2 separate regions of the Homo sapiens genome follow, and region 2 is linked to region 1. A link means that fine-mapping ties the variant in region 1 to the expression of a gene that starts in the linked region. Tissue or cell type: putamen. Region 1 holds a variant in brackets; the other region holds the start of a gene. All regions are shown on one strand. Distances are from middle to middle.

Evidence for each region. PIP is the estimated chance that this variant, and not a neighbour inherited with it, causes the effect. A credible set is the group of variants that fine-mapping cannot tell apart.
Region 2: TOM1L1 starts here. The variant in region 1 is the best candidate, but not a certain one, in a credible set for the expression of TOM1L1 in putamen (GTEx, PIP 0.66).

What each region holds. Positions count from the first base shown.
Region 1 is chr17:54,951,143-54,956,517 of GRCh38, reverse strand. All of the region lies in intron 14 of TOM1L1 (target of myb1 like 1 membrane trafficking protein), which reads right to left. It also overlaps a transcript of COX11 not described here. Among named protein-coding and RNA genes, the nearest start is that of COX11, 15 kb to the left of the region's middle. The variant G/TG (reference allele first, on the strand shown) is at 3,295.
Region 2 is chr17:54,897,721-54,903,095 of GRCh38, reverse strand. It overlaps TOM1L1 (target of myb1 like 1 membrane trafficking protein), which reads right to left and starts at 2,244. Exons shown (of 16, transcript NM_005486.3): 1 at 2,173-2,244. The coding sequence starts at 2,230. It overlaps LOC124904033 (a long non-coding RNA gene), which reads left to right and starts at 2,359. Exons shown (of 2, transcript XR_007065854.1): 1 at 2,359-4,488. RefSeq lists enhancers at 1,930-2,019, 2,040-2,149 and a silencer at 2,230-2,569.

The DNA of each region.
Region 1 (5,375 bases):
TGGGCAACGTGGCAAAACCCTGTCTCTACTAAATATACAAAAAAATTAGCCAGGCGTGGTGGCACATGCTTGTAGTCCCCAGCTACTCAGGAGGCTGAGGCATGAGAATTGCCTGAGCCTGGGAGGCAGAAGTTGCAGTGAGCCGAGATCACCCCCACTATACTCCAGCCTAATGACAGAGTGACACTCTGTCTCAAAAAATTAAATTAGCCAGGCATGGTAGCACACCCCAATAGTCTCAGCTACTCATGAGGCTGAGTAGGGAGGACTGCTTCAACCTGGGAAGTCAAGGTTGCAGTAAGCCGTGATCATGCCACTTTATTCTAGTTTGAGTGACACAGTGAGACCCTGTCAAGAAAAAATAATAATAACCTGTGTTCTCATGGAGAGTTGTCTATTACCAGATGAATGAATCTCAGGTTTTTTTAGGGGTAACAAGTCTGGTACCCCAGATGAGACCCAGGGTTGAGCCCTGACTTGACCTCCCTTATAGGCTCCTGGCAGGCAAAGCAGTGGGATGTGGAAGCATGCGTGGGCCAACTCACCTCAGTTGCCAAGAAGGAGACTAGAGAAGGGCCTTGGGACCCCTGACCTGGTGTCTAGTGTAGTCCACTGACCAGCACCACAAGACCTCTCTGGGAGAGTAGAAGCGGCTGCCTAGAGCCCAGACCTTTTGCTCGGTGCTGCTTTGAAGCAGCAGCTCCATGAACTACTAAAAGAGTGGTCTGGGTTTTGATCATTAGGATTCTGGGTTGTCAGGATTAGGACCTAGGTCAAGGGATCCAGGATTGTTGAGAAAAAGAAGTTCCTTCTTTCAGGTCTGGGAGACTGAGAGACATCGCCATCGTTTTAACAAGGGGAATCCCCAACAAAAAGACAAGGATGCTTGTCTTCAGGCTTTGTTCCCTACGTGGTATAACTGTAGGGCTCAATATTCTTACTTGTCTGTGGCCTGAATGAATATGAAGTCTGGATTCTTCTACCCTTAGTCTGTGGCAACCCCTAAAATATCAGGCTTTGTTTTGCAGCAGTCACAGAAGGACTGCTGTTAGTTTGATGAGGAGACCCAAGTTTCAAAGGGGGCAGTTTTGGTGGGATCATGATCCCTGGAACCAGAATGCAGTGATACAAAGGTTACATGAACAGTGTGTGTGCTTTCTCTGAGGAAACACCTCACTCACTTGATTGATTTACCTACCTCCCCACCACCTGAGCTGGATCCAGAACTACTTCATTGTCTCCATGAGATCTCCTGGGAGGCTGCCCGGACCGAACATGATCCAGGGAAAGGAAATCCCTGTTATCCTCTCAGCTTCCCAGGACCTCTGGATGGCTTTGCATGGTGGCCAGCAAAGAGGACCAGAAGTATTCAAGCTGAGTTGTGGGATTTGTGTCATCATTAATCTCCAGAGTTTGGAAGCCCCTCAGACTGTGTGCAGAGACCGTAGAATGTCGTGAACTAGGTCTTGGAAGGAGAGCTTGTTAGGGTGCCTCCTCTGGCAATGGAAACTGCATATCCACCCATGACCAAAAAGCAAATGATATATTACTGTAATACAGCCTGGCTCCAGTATTCCCTAGATCAGAAGAGATGGTCTGAATATGGGTCACTTACTGCAACTCTCCAATTGGACTTTTTTTGCAAGAAACATGGTAAATGGGAAGAAATGCCCTATATGCAATGTTTTATGGCCCTCTATCAAAACCCTGCCTTGCAGATGAAATGCAGAATATGTAAATTGGCCAAAGGGAACTATATTGCCAATTCTAGAAGCCTCTGGAGAGGAAGCATCAGTCATGTGGGGGCCTATAGGGAAGGGAACAAGTAAGAAGAGTCCCTTTACTACCCCCTCCAAGAGAAGTGAGGCCCTCTAACTCTACTCGGGGACTGGAACCTTGGCCAATACAGGGGCATAGTCCACCTTCTTGGAAATGGTACCCTCTGCACCTCCAGGGAAAAGCAAGGGCCCGTTCTGTATTTGCCAGGCCCTCCAAACTCTGCAGAGCCAGCTGTGGCTCCTGCTATGGCAATAGCAGGCCCCTGTTGCACTCTTCTTTGCCAGGGAGCACCACTCATAGTGGGAACGCATATAACCCTGGAGGGTGACTGTTGCCACTCAGAGCATGCCTGTTGGAGAAAGAGGTTTTGCTCGGGTCTATGTGTTTTTTAAAACTGTTGACTTGTATAACTGGAAATCCCATAGTAAGGGCTTATGGGTGAGCCCACGAGAGTTCGTAACTCTCATATGGAGAATATTCTCCACACATAACCCTACCTGGCCAGGTGTGCAGACCGTAACAGCAACCCTGCTCACAGCAGAAGATAAATCTGCCACCATGGCCAAAACTAAGGAGGAGGCAGACAATATGTGTGCTGATAACCTGGTGACCTGGCCCGTTGAGGTGTCAGTCCCAATAGCCAACCCAAACTGGGACCCCAGTGATAACAAGAATCAAGAGTGGCTTCATCATTATAGGAATATGCTTCTCAGAGGTATGAGGGAAGCAAGCCAGTCCCTGGTCAATTGGGGAAATCTCAGAGAAATAGAACAAGGCCCTAATGAAAATCCATCAGCATTCCTAAATTGATAATAAGAATGCCTCCAGAATTACACCCCTTGGGACCCAGATGACCCAAAAGCTGAGTAGTACTTTAATCTCACTTCATCTCTCAGCCCCAGATATTCAGAGAAAACTCTAAAAAGTGGCAATAAATCCACATACTCCCCCTTTCCAACTGGTAGACATCTCCTTTAAGGTCTATAGTAAAGAGATGTGGCATCTGATGAAAAGGAAGACAAGAAGATGCGGCAGCCCTACAGACTACTTCAGGAAGCCCAGGAAGAAGATGGCATGGGTGAGTGACCAGGGCCCCCACCATGGAACTCAGGGCCTGCCTACACTGGGGCCCAAACAATATGCTTACTGGAAGCAGAAAGGATGCTAGGAAAGGGAATGTCCAAATCATCCCCAGAGAGGGAAGGAGGAGGACAAGCCCAAGGTACCTGTTCCCTGTAACTGGACAAGAAACTGATGGATGGGGACATGGGGCTCCCTGCCTGGCTCCTCAAAACAAGATCCACATCTCCCCCAAGGAGCCCCAGGTTACACAGAAGAAGGGGGGCAACCAGTTGGATTTTTTTTCGTTTGTTTGAGACAGGGTCTGTGTTACCCAGGCTGGAGTGCAGCACCGTGATCATGGCGCACTGCCGCCTCCAACTCCCAGGCTCAAGCAGTCCTCCCACCTTAGCCTCTCAAGTAGCTGGGACTAAGGCACACCTGGCTGATTTTTTT[G/TG]TTTGTTTGTGGAGACAAGGTCTCGTTATGCTGTCAGGGCTGGTCTTGAACTCCTGGGCTCAAGTGATCCTCCAGCCTTGGCCTCCCAAAGTGTTGGCATTACAGGCATGAGCCACTGCTCCCGGCCACCAGCTGAGTTTTTGATCAACACTGTAGCCATGTTTTCTGTGTTGATCACTAAAAGTGGACCCTATCCAGGAAGAAATGTATATAAGGGGTGTGTCTCATAAAGGAAATAAAAGATTCTTGGAGCCTCTGGTCCATGAAATAGTATCTAAAACTTTCACTCATTCTTTCTTCTGTTCCCCAAACATCCCATTCTCCTTTTGGGAAGGGACCTTCTGACTAAGTTTGGAGCCACAATTTCTCTAAATCAGGACAGAATAGAGGTGTTCTGAGCCCATGGCACTGCCATGCTGGCCCTAGTTCCTGGGGAAGTTCCAGACTTGGGGCCTCATATGACTCCTTGGCTAATGCGGTACTAGATAATTGTATAGCATTAGACTGCCTCTTAGCAGAACAGGGAGGAGGAGAGTGTGCAGTTATTAATTCCTCTTGCTGTACCTGAATAAATACCTCAGGGGAAATAGGAAGTTAACATTAGGAAGGTCCATGCCCAAGCCTCTTGGTTCCACACTTTTAATCAGCAGCCATATTTTTTTTTTTTTTTTTTTTTTGAGACAGTCTCGCTCTGTTGCCCAGGTTGGAATGCAGTGGGGCACGATCTGGGCTCACTGCAACCTCTACCTCCTGGGTTCTAGCGATTTTTCTGCCTCACCTTCCTGAGTAGCTGGGACTACAGGTGCGCACCACCACACCTGCCTAATTTTTGTATTTTTAGTAGAGACGGGGTTTCACCATGTTGCCCAGGCTGATCTTGAATTCAGGGTGATCTGCGCGCCTTGGCCTCGCAAAGTGCTGGGATTACAGGGGTGAGCCACCACATCAGGCCTAATAGCCATACTTCTAATTCTGTTTGAGAAGTTCTCAAATTAGCAATACCAAGTGTTACTTGGTTTCTTCCCCTAATGAGGCCACTAATTTTATTGCTCTTACTACTGTTGTTTGGTCCCTGCATCTTTAACCTCTTCGTAAAATTTGTATCTTCCAGATTAGAAAAATTTCAACTGTAGGTGCCTTTGCAACCTATCCTGGGAGACCCTAAAACATATTTAGTTTTAGTGCCTAGAGATTTTCACTCCTCTAACATCTCTGGATACAGTGTCCCTGGTCAACATGAAGAAGTTACAGAAGAACGCTTTCTGATCCTGGCCCCTAAAGAATTTACTTGTGCTAAGTAATAAAATTCCTATTGATCAAAACCTGTGTCCTTGTGGAGAGTCAGATATCTGTTACTATCCAGGTGAATGAACCCTGGGTTTTTTGGGTGGTAACAGGACCTGAGGGGCTGCAGAGCCTACCTGTGTAAAGGAGATAGCTACTACTCAACCCCAGCCCATAGCTAGCACGTAAAAATTCAGGCTTCGTGTTGACAGAGTATCTAAATGATCTAGAAGTCCAGAATTTTTATTTTCAAATATCCGAGTTTTCAGCTGTTGGCAACTGTGGTCTTATGATACATACTGGTTTTTGTCTAAGGTTCCTGGCTCACAACTCCCATAGCCCTTGTTACAGTCTTTTGTTATAATGTTGGGTGTGTCAGGCCTTAGGAGCCAGCCTCTGGAAGCAGAATCTCTCGACCTTCTCTAGTCCTCCTTTCACCTGCCCCAAGGCACCACTCTAATCGCCCACCTTTGTCACTGTGGGTCATAAGAGCCTCCCTAGAGAGGGTCCTGCCCTATACCCTGGGGGAAGGAATGCTGACATCAAGAAGCTTCCATTAAAAACCCTAGAGGACTGGGTTGGGGTTGGGTCAGGTCAGTTTCTGGATAGCTGAACACGTGGAGGTACCTGGAGGGTGGGACTCCAGGGAGGGCACGGAAACTCCATGGCCTTTTCCGCATGCCTCGCCCTGTGCATCTCTTCATCTGCATCCTTTGCAATGTCCTTTATAATAAACCAGTAAATATAAGTATTTCCCTGAGTTCTGTGAGCTGCTCCAGCAAACTAATCAAACCCAA
Region 2 (5,375 bases), 53 kb after region 1:
ATTGTCCTATCATCTTAATCTCACGATTCCTTCTAATTTTACCAATTATTATAACTTCAACCAATACTTGCAAAGACACTGCTTACCTCAACTATGTAAAAACTTCCATTGCATACACTTTTACTTTCAGCCTTAATTATTTCAAACTGGCGCTGGATAACTATCCGAACTAATAATAATAAGCATCTAAACTAACCACAGCTGCACCAGGCTGACCAGAATGCTTCTGCACTTGGAACCCTATGATTAGATAATCAGGCATCTTTCCCTCTCCAGACAGCCGCTTTAAGAATACAAGATGTTATCTGGAAAGGGTAATGGAACACTCAGTATGAATGCGCTAACATCTTCCTAAGAGAAGGACAAGATCCCTAAGCATGAAAACACCGGGTTCTGGGGGAAATGGAGAAAAAAACAAAAAAGATAGAGAAGGGGAAGAATAAGGACTTGCTTGGGGGAACCCCAAAGTTTAGCTTGCTTTCAATCCAGGAAAAGAACCACTTGAGGCGGGGCCCGGTGGCTCCCGCCTGTAATCCCAATCACTTTGGGAGGCCGAGGTGGGTAGATCACCTGAGGTCAGGAGGTCGAGACCAGCCTGGCCAGCATGGTGAAACTCCATCTCTACTAAAAATACAAAAATTAGCCTGGCGTGGTGGCATGTGCCTGTAGTCCCAGCTACTCGGGAGGCTGAGGAAGGAGAAGTGCTTGAACCCGGTAGGCGGAGGTTGCAGTGTGCCGAGAGCTACTGCACTCCAGCCTGGGTGTCACTCCCCGTCTCAAAACAAAAACAAAAACAAAAACAAAACAACAACAACAAAAAACTTGAATCTGGCACCGAATGGACAAAGCTTACCTCCCTAGAAAAGAAAACTCCTATTCACCCTTCAAAAGCCACGCAGAATTCATTTCTCCCTTCTCCTAAGTTTTGTGTGTTTTGCATTTTCTTGCATTGCAAAGGTGCCACACAAAACTGTGCCCGTCTTCTCTACAAGAAAGTGAGTTCCCTCAGGTTTGAGACCACGTCTCACCTTGGCCTCACCAGTGCCTGATCCAGGTCCAGGCACATAGCTGACAGTTAGTCCATGTTTACAGAATTAAAAAATTAAGCAGAAGAACTGCTGAAGTTTCGTTTGCCTATGAAGACACAGTCTGAATCCATTTCTGCTTGGGGTTCATTCTAATATCCAAAAAAGCACAGCCATTAAGGGAAAGCATCTCCTCAATGGTAGCTACTCTGACCATCTTATAAGGATGTGTAAACTAAGGTTCTGTTTAAGTGGTGTGTTCGGTGTCACAGCAGTTAGTAGAGCTGTGATCTAAATTTTCCAAATCTGGGCCTCTTTACTACAACTACTAGGTTCTCACGATTTCATCACCCCACTAAGTTCCTGACATCATCACACTTTGCCTGGCATTAATATGCACTCGTGCCACACCCAATTCCCAAGGGAGGAATCAGGGAAAAGAAGGAGCAGTGAGCTGGTGCTGGTAGGAGTCCAATCACTGGCTTCTACATACATCATGCAAGGTACATCCGGAGGAGAGAGAAATCATTTAGGTGGATGCTGGTGTAGTCCCTAGTGGCCTGCGAGAGACCTCCGTGGCCCCAGATGGCTCCTATGTTCCCCTCCTCTTCACTCCAATGCCAAGCATTTTCATTCTCTTTGTTTACCCAGAAAAGTAATCCAGGTTGTATAAGCTTGGCACTAGAGAAAACTGGTTTGGGGAGACCTGCCCCTCACAGTAAGGCCACATCACTTAGTCTCCCAGAGCCTCCTCTTCTGATCTGTAAAACGGGCATAACAATACCGTGCCCTGGAGAATGTGCCTTTAGGAATAACTTCCCCTACCGAGAAGTTTCTGGTGTCTCCTCGTGGAGGCCCAAACACTCCATGCCTGACTCCCGCGGTTCACCTGTTTGGTTCCACTCCCCAGGCGGCATCGAAAGGAAGGTACATTTTTGAGGACTGAGGTTCTACAGTGAGTTGGCCAAGAAGGAAACGACGAAAGGGGGCCGGGTGGAATGCGGGTGCCTTGGGAAAGTTGCGGGGGGAGGGGAATAATTTTTTCAAGTTGGACTAACTCCGTCCTCTGCAGGCCGAGAATGGATCAAGCAGGAAAGGATCCCACGGTCCCCTGCCTGCCTGGGCGTCTCTCCCCGCGCCTCCTTACCTATGAGGTGGCCCACGGAGGTCGCGTAGGGATCCCGGTGACTCTTGCCAAACGCCATGGTAGCGCCAGAGGGCCGGGCCCAGGAAATCCGCCTCCACCGCTCTCCGGCTCCCGACTCCACCCGCTCGGTACCCTTGGCTCCTCCTCTTCGCCCGAGCGCTTCCCGGGCTCTGGCAGAGGCGGTGCGTTCTGCGCTGCCGCTGCGGGGCGCGGGCACCGAGCGTGAGGAGCTGGGCGCGGGGCAGGGACGCGAGGGCGGGGCTTCGGGACGCCCAGCGCACCTGCAGCGCGCCCTGCGGGACCCGCGAGGAGGCTGCGCTGCCGGCTGCAGGTGGTACAGGCGGGTAGTGGCGGGTGTATGGAGCCTGCGAGAGTGGCGCGGCCGCCCGCTCGGATCCCAGGTGGGCTTTTCGCCCCGTGCAGGAGGAGCAGGCAGCCCAGAATCTCCAGCCTGGGAATTAGAGACCCAGGCTTTGATCCTGCCGCTTGCTGGGCACCTTGTCATTCTTCTCTGCGCCTCTTTGGCTGCCCTGGGTAGACCAAAGATAATAGGGGGTTAATAACACAAACCTCAGAATTATGAGAATTAAGGGAAGGACGTAACCGATTATGTCGGTGTCTGGTACCCACAAAATAAATAGTTAGCCACTGAATATACTGAATAACTAGAAATATTTACCCTCGACCTGCCTTTGTCCTAGAGATCCGGGAGGGGAGGTGTGCGCCCTGCCCTTTAAAGTTGTGGTCATGTCTAGGAGGAAGGATTGGCTTCGAATTTAGGGCTTCCCAGGAGCAGGCCCTCTTTGTCTCTCTACTATTTCCTCGAGGGACCACAGGGCGCCGCCTCGCAAGCTCTTGTTTTCTAACCCCACCTTCTGGGAGCCGTGTTTTCCAGCCTGATTCTAAAAACGGGAGAGGGGCTTTCCGTTTCTTCTGGCAAGGAGTATGCTTGGCTTTAGGCCTGCTTTGTAATGTAGGTTGGAATCTGAGAAGCCCAACACCTTTCCAGCTGCCCCTTCAGAACCAGAATTTATTTCCTATTCCTTTGCATTCAATTAACATCTGATTGGCGATGTTAACAATCTCCAGCCAGCAGGAGCCTGCCAGAGAGTGAGGTGTCCCCAGGCGATGTCAGATAGCCATAGATGAGCTCCTGGTGCTTGTAGATCCTGTTTCCTGTAGTCTAACTGCCACCCATTTCAAGTCTGTTTTTTAGCCCTGGAGATGGTGACTAGGGAGACGAAGGGGACCTGTTTTGACTTATGTCCGTGGTCTTGTGAATTTTAATATAGAGGTCAAAACCAATTGCCATGCACTCCAGGAGGCTAACATTTAATTATCTGTAACTCAATTATTTATAATTTTTCTTGACCAAAGTGAGCCAAAACCTGGGATTCTAAAATCTAGAATGAAATATTCTTGTTGTGATGATATGTCTCATAATGGGATTTGTCCCACGTGTAACTAATATTCTCCACCTGCCTATTCAGGGCGAGTAGCTATTTCAGATGTTGCCGTTTATCAACTTCCTTACTCATCACTATAGCCTCTGCTGACACTGTTGAAAACCTCTTTTGTGACATCACCAACCTAATCTGTATTCCATGCCTCTAGCAAAATATTTTGCCTTTTCTGCAACCTAGAATCAACCTACAATCTCTGAAAAAGAAAACCAATTTTAGCTTAGGCCAATGTTGGTGTCAGTGGCCTTCTATCAGTTAATGAGAACGAGAAAGGAACCGAGCATCCAGAGAGATAGATTTTTAACATACTTCTATGTGGGAGGTTTTTCTTTTCGTCTTCTTCTTCTTCTTTTTTTTTTTTTGTTTTTTTCTCCTATGTCTGATTTCCTTACATGACAGGACTGAGGCACCGAGAAAGAGGAGAAACAGTAGCAAGGAGTGTCTTCTGGACTTGATGCTTGGGTGAACAGAACCAAGGTTGATGAGTGCTACCTGTGTTCTATCTCAGCAATGCCTGGCAGAAGTTTTTCTCTCTCCCTGTGCCCTCCAGGGTGTTGTGGTGGTTGTTGCAGCCTTCTCTTCCTGTACTCTGTTCCGTTCTGCATGATCCCTCTTCTCTCCAGGCATGAAAATCAACGTGGTTAATGTTAGTAAAGTCTAGCAGCGGGGACAATAGAATTCACAGCTAAGTTGAGGTCAGAGAAGGAGCAGAATCCCACAGGGGTAAAATGACACCAGGAGTAAAATCTTACCACAATTTCAATTCCAAGAACACTTAGTCAACATTTATTTATGTAAAATGTGCTAAGTGTCTGCAACTAGAAATCTATCTTAATCTTCACAATCCTGAGAGGTGGGTAGTATTAACCTCATTTTTACAAATATATAATCTGAGATTCAGAAAGATCAAGTTTATAAATGGCTTCACTAAAGTTTGACTCATGGCTGCCTGGTTCCAAAGCCTATATTATTGTCACTAGGTGAATCTGTTTATTGAGCCTGATGTCTTGCTTTTTTAAAGGATCTGCTTGATTCAGTGCAAGACCTCTTGAAGAATACAGGAATAGGGGAAGTCATATACTTTGCTGGCACAAGGTCCTGCTTTTTTTCTGTTCTTGTTCAATAGCGAATATTTTTTGTGCTAGAACTATATGCCAGATATGTTCTAAACATATTACATGCGTTATCTCATTTAATCACATAATAACGTTATGAGACCAGTACGGTTATTACTTTATTTTTCATGTTAGAAAAACCAAAGTAATGGCTGGGCGCGGTGGCTCACACCTGTAATCCTAGCACTTTGGGAGGCCGAGGCAGGCATATCACCTGACGTCAGGAGTTCAAGACCAGCCTGGCCAACATGGTGAAACCCTGTCTTTACTAAAAATACAAAAATTAGCTGGGCATGGTGGCAGGTGACTGTAATTCCAGCTACACGGGAGGCTGAGGCAGGAGAATCGCTTGAACCCGAGAGGCGGAGACTGCAGTGAGACGAGGTCACGCCACTGCTCTCCAGCCTGGGCAACAGAGTGACTCCATCTCAAGAAAAAAAGGGGGGGGAAATAAGTCAATAATTTTTCACATAGTCACATTGCTAGGGAAGGACTGTCTAATTCCAGAACCTGTGACTTGAATGGCTGTGCTATGTCATCCCTCTTGGATAGAGCTCTAGATGGTAGGTGGTGCCCTTCACTAGTTCACATTTTGAAAGAAGTGGGTTCTAGGGGGCAGTGTCTG